Homo sapiens: one gene and its partner. The protein of the gene in region 2 purifies or fractionates together with the protein of the main gene of each other region. This does not show direct contact. Each region holds a gene or a part of one and is shown on either strand. Other genes may lie near its edges.

The links.
Region 1: the proteins of NPAS3 (region 2) and ABCC12 purify together in Homo sapiens (affinity purification with mass spectrometry; one large-scale study listed by BioGRID and IntAct). This does not show direct contact.

Annotation. Positions count from the first base shown.
Region 1 is NC_000016.10:48,080,372-48,083,297, forward strand, and holds the end of ABCC12 (ATP-binding cassette sub-family C member 12), read right to left. Parts: 3' UTR 511-2,926; downstream 1-510. UniProt on the Homo sapiens protein: Probable transporter, its substrate specificity is unknown.
Region 2 is NC_000014.9:32,937,216-32,941,751, forward strand, and holds the start of NPAS3 (neuronal PAS domain-containing protein 3), read left to right. Parts: upstream 1-1,663; 5' UTR 1,664-2,101; coding exon 2,102-2,151; intron 2,152-4,536.

The DNA of each region.
Region 1 (2,926 bases), on a different chromosome or scaffold from region 2:
TGCCCTCTACCACAAAACATGATGTTCCTGGCAGAGACTGCTCTGCTCCGCTGGGTCACAGAGTGAAGAGGATAAGCACAGTCACAGCTCACCTGTGATGGATGTGTCACATAAGCAAGAAATAAGCCAGTGTGGTCTGGGGTCTTTTGTTACTGCAGCATAACTGAGTCTACCCAGACCAGTACTCAGGCTTTACAACACAGGCACTGCTCTTTCTCACCAGGAGGATTGCATTTCTAGCAGTGTTGCATGGAATTTAACAGCACATGTTTTATTTTTATTGTATGTATTTCTGTAGTGACGAGGTCTCACTTTGTTGCCCAGGCTGGTCTCATACTCCTGGAGGAGCACACTTTTTAGAGTCAACCTGCCTGGATTCAAATCTCACCAGTGGCTAACCTTGGTCAAGTTACTTTCTTGATGCCTCAGTTTCCTCATCAGTAATATAAGGATAACACTTGTACTGTGTTAGTCTATTCAGGCTGATATAATAAAATATCTTAGACTGAGTAATTTATAAACAACAGAAATTTATTGCTCACAGTTCTGGACGCTGGGAAATCCATGGTCGAGGTGCCAACAGATTTGGTGTTGAGTGAGGGCCCATTCCTCACAGATGATGCCTTCTATGTGTCCTCACATGGAGGAAGGGGTGAACAAGCTTCCCCAAGTCTCTTTTATAAGAGAGCCAATCCTATTCATGAGGTCTCCACCCTCATGACCTAATTAATCACCTCCTAAAGGCCCTACCTCTATACTGTCACACTGAGGATTATGTTTCAACAGGAGGATTTTGGGGGAACACAATGTTCAGATCATAGCAGACACCTACCCCACAGGGATATGTTCAGGATTTAATAACCTAAGCCTGTGCTTTGAGGAATTTGGCTAAATGGCTACTATTATTCTACATAGTCTCCCCTTGGCTGACATGGCAGTGATAGCAAGGGGTTGGGGTGGGAGAGGGGTTTGCTAAGATGGTTTCGTGTCTTATACATGCAAACAGCCAAACCCTCAGAAGTCACTCTCCCCCAGGGATGATACTGATGACCATCACTGTCCTTGCAACAGGCCAAGGGGAAAGGACTGGAGGGGCTTTGTTGTGAAGGGGTTGGGAGCAGGGCCTGTGGAGCCAGACTGGTTAGGGTTCAAGCCCTATCTCTGTCCCTTCCTTCCTGGGCATCTGTAGATAAGTTACTAACCTCAGTGAGCCTCAAATCCCATCTCATGGGGTGAGATGAGGATTCAGTGAAATAATTCATGGAAAAAATGCTTGTCACAGTCCTGGCACACTGCAAGGTCTCAGTAGACATCAGGATCAATGTCGGTGTTCTTCTTCTGCCAGAGTAAACCAAAGCGAGTGTGGGCAGAAAAGGAGTCATAGGAGGTGATTCATCTCTCAATGCATCTGAAGGAGCAGCAGGGATCATTGTAGTCTATCCTCTGTCCTCATGAAAACACCACCTCTTGAAATCACAGACTGATTATCTGGCTGGTGTCCAGTTGGTAGAAAGTAAAGCATCCCTCCCTGACATTGCACAACTGTCATGGATTCCCATGGCCAGCACAGACTGCCCAGTCTGCTTGTCATATTGGGGAAGTTATCTTATGTCCATAAAGGTGATGCCCACACTCAGCTGGGAGCAGCTGCTCAGAACGCTGTGGATGTGGGTTTAATGACCTTCAGTCAGGGTCATGCACCATGGGGGAAAGCTCAGATCAGGCAAAGATACACTGTGTCCCTTCACAGAGAGATCCACACTTGGCCTGGAGCTGCCCACAGAAGGAACCCCCTGGCTCACGTCCTTCTCAGCCACATGTCTTAGTGCACCCTCTGCTGAGGGCAGGATCCATTGCTGCCAAGCTGCTGGGCCAGGGCTTTCATGCAGTTGCCAGGTTATAAGCTCTACCTAAGGCCAGGTGTGCTCACCTCCCCGCTGGTTGGGTAGACCCCTGCCCAGGCCTGGCCGGAGGAGGGCTGGAGAATAATCGGTTGGAGGTTAACCTCACATGCCCAGCCCTTGAATTGCTGGCTGTTGGCTTTTTGGCCAGAAATCCAGATTAAGCTCTTAACATGCACACACACCTGGGAGGGGTGTCCGCCAGGCTCCACAGCTGTGTTTCAGCGAGTTCATTAGATGCTGTCATTCATGGCTGCCACAAGTGTTTCCCGAGTGCTTCCAGGTGCCAGGCACTCCTTCCTCCACGTCTGGGGAAGCAAGTACGTGACCAACACTTACAAGGGAAGTGGGGTGGGGGGTTGTGGTCTGGAAGCTTTGCTGACCACACTGCCCTGAGCTACATTTAGAGCTCAGCCTGGGGCCTGGAAAGCAGGCCCAGGGAACCTCATGGGGCCTTCATTCCTGATGAATGAAAAACAGCCAGAACTCCCAGCGTGCCCCTTGGCGGCTACTACACAAGAGCTTGCTGGATTTTCTATAAATATTTTTTTCCCAAATGTCACCATGAGTTAGCAGCGCTCACTCCTGGGGCTGCTGGGAATACATCTTTACTGCTTCCATCAGAACCAGCCTCCAGGTTGGAGAGAAAGCTTTTTGTTTGGTAAGCGACTGTGAAGGTTCATTACTGAGTGAAGGGAGAAGGCAACAAGGGTCTATTGGAGGAAATAGTATGGAAATTGGAATATCTTCAGTGAAATAATTGCAAGGCGACATTTCAGGGTAATTTCCTACCGCGTTTTAACGACGAATAAAGAAGATATAAAAGTGTCATTTATAGAGAAACTCCAGCATTTTGTTTTCTTGGTTATTCTAACAGATCAATTGAAACATATAATATGATTTTTAAAAAAATTTTTGGCCAAACACTGTATTCAGTCTTTCACGCTACAAATCTGTGTCATTACCACTTGTCACCCAGTCAAGATGGAAGTGAGTGGGGTTAAACGAGAAGAAAATTCTGCTCT
Region 2 (4,536 bases):
GGTTCTGAAGGACAGACTTAGTTTCCGCTTGGATTTGTTTCCATCTGGATTTGTTTGTTAAGTGAATGGTGACATATCATTTTACCAAAAAATTATTTTTAAGTACTTTTGAGGAGTCCGCCGCGGGAGTGACAGGAGTGGGGGGTTTTTCAAGCAAAGAGTGGCCTCTTGGGAGACTACAAGCTTCTCTCATTTGTCATCTTCGGGCAGAAACCCCCTAGACTGGGTGTCCTGGAGCCAAAACTTTGAACTGGCAACTTTTTCCCTTCTCTGCCAGCCCATGTATATCTTGTCCATAACACTCTCCACTCCAGTTCATTTCTCATTCTCTCCTACCTGTAGAGTGTACTCCAAAGAGAACTTAAACACCATCATGCAGATTAAACACCTCTACCACGAAAAACATTTATGTGTTCCTTTGGAAGTTTCCAACTCCCAGCCCTACTTTACTGGAGTCGTAGAGACCGAATGGAGGACCCCTTTTCAGGTCTTTATTTTTTTCTTAAGCTTAAAGTCAAATGCAGAACCTCACACAGGACTGATGTTTTCCATCAGGCGCTTTCATTCATTCAAAGTGGAAATGCTTTGGGAGTCCTTTCTACTTGCCTGGTTGACACATGACTGACCCAAGTCTCTGCGTAAAAAGCTGTCCACACGCTTCTGATTGGTTTAGTGGAGAAAACGCTCTGACCAGGGTCTACCCAGGTAACAGGATTCTAGCCCGGGCCCTGCACTGAGTAGCCAGCCTTTCTCTAGGCCTTGCTGAACTGTCAAACCGGGGTGCGGCTGGGCTAGATCCCAGAGGGTGGCAGTCCGGTCCCAAGTCCCGGGACCCGAGTCGGGAGGGGCTTCTGTATGTGAGTTTAAACGCGCGGGGATTCACCTGTGAACCCTGGGGTCTGCACTCCTGTACGTCCGTGACTGATGCAGATGCTCCGGCTTTGGGAACGCTGCTGAGAGCGCCAGAGCCACAAGGTGCTTGTGCTGCTGCTGCACCGCCCACGGGGCTCTTGGGCCCATCTGCTTGGGCCAGCGCACCCCCCATCCGTATTGATTTCCGCTGCCCCCAAGGAGCTCCCGGGACTGTGTCCTGCCCCAGCTCGCTCCTGTGGCCTCCCAGTTCCTTTTTCTGTTTCTTTCTTTCCTCCTGGCTGCAATACTCCAGAGAAGGGAAGTGTTTGAAACTGCAACTGAGTGGCGTTGTTGCGCCGGCAGCCGAGCCTCCCAGTCCCCCAACGAGAAAGAGAGAGAGAGAGAGAGAGAGAGAAATTGAGAGAGAGAGAGAGAGAGAGAGAGAGAGAGAGAGAGAAGGGGGGGGAGGTGTGTGTCTGCGTACGAGAGAGCGCTCTGGAGCAAAGCAGCTGGAAAATGCCCAGAAATACTTTCACAGCGGTCAAGCTGGAACCCCCCGCGTGTCCTCCCCCTTCCCGCTCCTCCCGGCCTAGACCCCGCGCCCCCCGCAGGGAGGGTGTGCGCCCCACCTGCCACCGGGCTGCTCCGGGTGGTAGAAAGGGGTGACGGGGGACGGGGGCGGGGGCGGGTGGCGGCGCGGGGGTGAGAACCCGGAGGCGGCGGGGCCCTGGGCCGGGCTGCCCGCGGGACCGCGCGGCCGCCTCCCCCCGCCGCCGCCGCCGCCTCCCCCTCCTCCTCCTCCGCCGCCGCCGCCGGTCGCCTGTCTCCGCGCCGGGCATGCCTCGGGAGCCGGGGCGGCCCGGGCCGCGGGCGCTCTGCGGCGCATGGACGGCGGCGGCGCCGGGCGAGCAGCGGGAGGAGAAGGCGCAGGCGGCGGCGGAAGCGGCGACCCACGGCTGGGAGCACCGGCGGCGCGAGGGGACGGCCGGCCGCCCGCGAGGCTCCGGCCCCACTACTTTTCCGTAGCCTCCCCACCTCAGCAGCACGGCCGCCGCCGCCGCCGCCGCCGCCGCCACGGCCACGGCCACGGCCCCGGCCCCGGCCACCGCCCGCCGGGCAGCCCAGAGCGCCGCGCACGGCCGCACTCTCCCGCCACCCCACGCACACGCACACCCCCGCCCGCCCACGCCCCCCACCCGGGAGGGGGGAGAGAGGCAAAAAGTAAGAGAGGAAAAAAAATAGCAGGAAGATGGCGCCCACCAAGCCCAGCTTTCAGCAGGATCCTTCCAGGCGAGAACGGTAACACTTTTCTGTTTATTGAACCTGCCGCCGGGCCGCTGCTCCCGCCGCCGCCGCCTCCGCCGCCGAGGGCCCCTCTCCGCAGCCCGCCCGCCTCCTGGGCCGCGAGCCCGCGGGGACCTCGTCTGGGCGCAGCGCTCGCCCGGGGCCCCGCGCATTGTCCCCGCGGCGGCTGCGGCAGCGAGAGGCTCTGGCGGCGGCCGGGCTCTCTGAGCAGTCGCACCTCCTCGGCTCGGCGAATAGAGTGACTCACTGACAAAAAAAAAAAAAAAAAGAAGAAAGAAACAGAAAAGAGAAAAAGAAAAAGAAACAAACAGATGCGAAGGCGCTGCCGTGTGACGGGAGCAGCAGCGAGGGTGGGGGGCCGGGGATCCCCGGGGCCGCCGCAGGTCCCCTAGCAGCTGCTCTCGAGGAAGGGAATGAGGCTGGGGAGGGGGAGGGAAGGCGGCGAGCAGGGGGAGGAGGCGAGGAGCAGGAGGAGGAGGCCGGGGGCGGGGAGCGCGGAGCTCGCGCCAGGCCCGGAATGTGTCGCGGAGGGGCCGGCTCCGTCTCCGCGCGAGCAGCTAGGCCGGGCCGAGCCCAGAGGAGCGCGGCCGCCGCCTCCCTGCCTCCCGGGCTGCGCCCTCCGCTCGGCAACTTGTGGGTCTCCCGCTCTGCCCTCCGCTCTCATCTTCCCCTCCTCTCCATACCCCTCCCAAAGGAAAAAGAAAAATAAAGAAGAAAACCCTCAAATCCAAATAAGCAAACAAACAGCGAGATCCAAAATGTGTCAGCAGTTGGAGCATCTATGCCCCGTTAGTTACTGTTTGGGGATCTGTGTTTTAAAAAGTTCCTGGTGAGAATTGCATATCCAAGCAAGGGGCTCAGTCGAGCATGTCTATTTGAAGTTAGTTAAACTAGTACAGCCACAGGGAAAGGGAGTTTGTGTTCAAAATACCCGTAACTGTTCTACGTGAGTAGCATTGATAGATTTTCAGAGTAACTCAGCACCCCCTCCCCATCACCACCAACGTGGTTTTCCCTCCTGCTGTCCACCCAGCCTACTTTCTTTGGAATCCTATTTACTATTAATTGGCAACGTTAATGACATTAATTGCATATAGCATATTGGTTTGAGCAAAGTGGATATCTCTTTCTGTCTCCGAAGAGGAAAGGCGCAGTAGGAAGTATGAAACGTCACCCACTGATTCATGAGGAAAACAAATACAGTAAGATATATGCACCCCCACCCGCAGCAGGCGCGTTGATTTTCCTCACAGGCTTAAGTGAACTTGAAAAGAAGACAAAGGATGTGCTTAGTTGCAAGATTTAATTATTATAACATAGTTTTATTTTTGATGCAACATAATATTTAACCTATAGCTTACATCAGAAGACGATAAGGGGATATTCAGACATCCATTCATTTAAAAGGCTTCTATTGTACTGTTGCTTATTTCTTTCATACGATAGGGAAGGCACAATTGTCAGGATTAAGGAAATACTTTTGTTAAGTAGATACATAATTGACTAATTCTGAACTCTAGATGATTCTGTAAACATCATATATCAGAGAGTAAATCATACATAATCCAGTTTTTAAAGATGTTAAATGTGTATAGCATTAACTATTGCTCCCAAACTGTAGAAAATCTGACAACTCATACAGCTAAAATGAGTATTTACTTCTTAAGAAGTATCAGTGTTTCATGAAGAATTCACACTTTACTCTTGTAGTAGAAAAAATAATTTCTCAGAGCATTGTGCAAGGATTTTAAAAATTATTTTTTATCTAACATGAAGATGAATACTTTTTGAAATCTGAGGTTTATAATTGGTTTTCTTCCCCCTCCCCTCCCCTCCCCTTCCCTCCTCCCTCCCTCCCTTCCCCTCCTCCCTCCTTTCCCCTCCTCCCTCCTTCCCCTCCCCTCCTCCCTCCCTCCCTCCCTCCCTCCCTCCCTCCCTCCTTCCTTCCTTCCTTCCTTCCTTCCTTCCTTCCTTCCTTCTTCCCAGTTCTGTTGTTAATAAATATGTTTACTGGGATGGCCCCAGTAATCTCTCTAGCAAAGGCCTATTCGTGTGCCATTTTAGGAATTTCTCTGAGATAAGAATCTCGGAGATAGAATTAATTTCTAGGGGAAACTTCATAGCCTGTGCATGAGTGCGTTCTTTATCACCTGTCTCCATTTGGCATTCGAAGAAGGTAAATCAAAGTGTGCGATTTGTTATTCTGCTCCACTTGAGAGCTGAACTAAATAACACTTGGTCTGAAATTCTGATTGAAGTTGTAGGAGGATATACTGTATTTAATTTAATGCCCTTTAATAGCATCTTCTTGTTCAGCTTGGATGCTGTCATTTTAAAGGTTGGATCTGAGAAGGTTTAACCTGTATGGAGAAGGAGGAG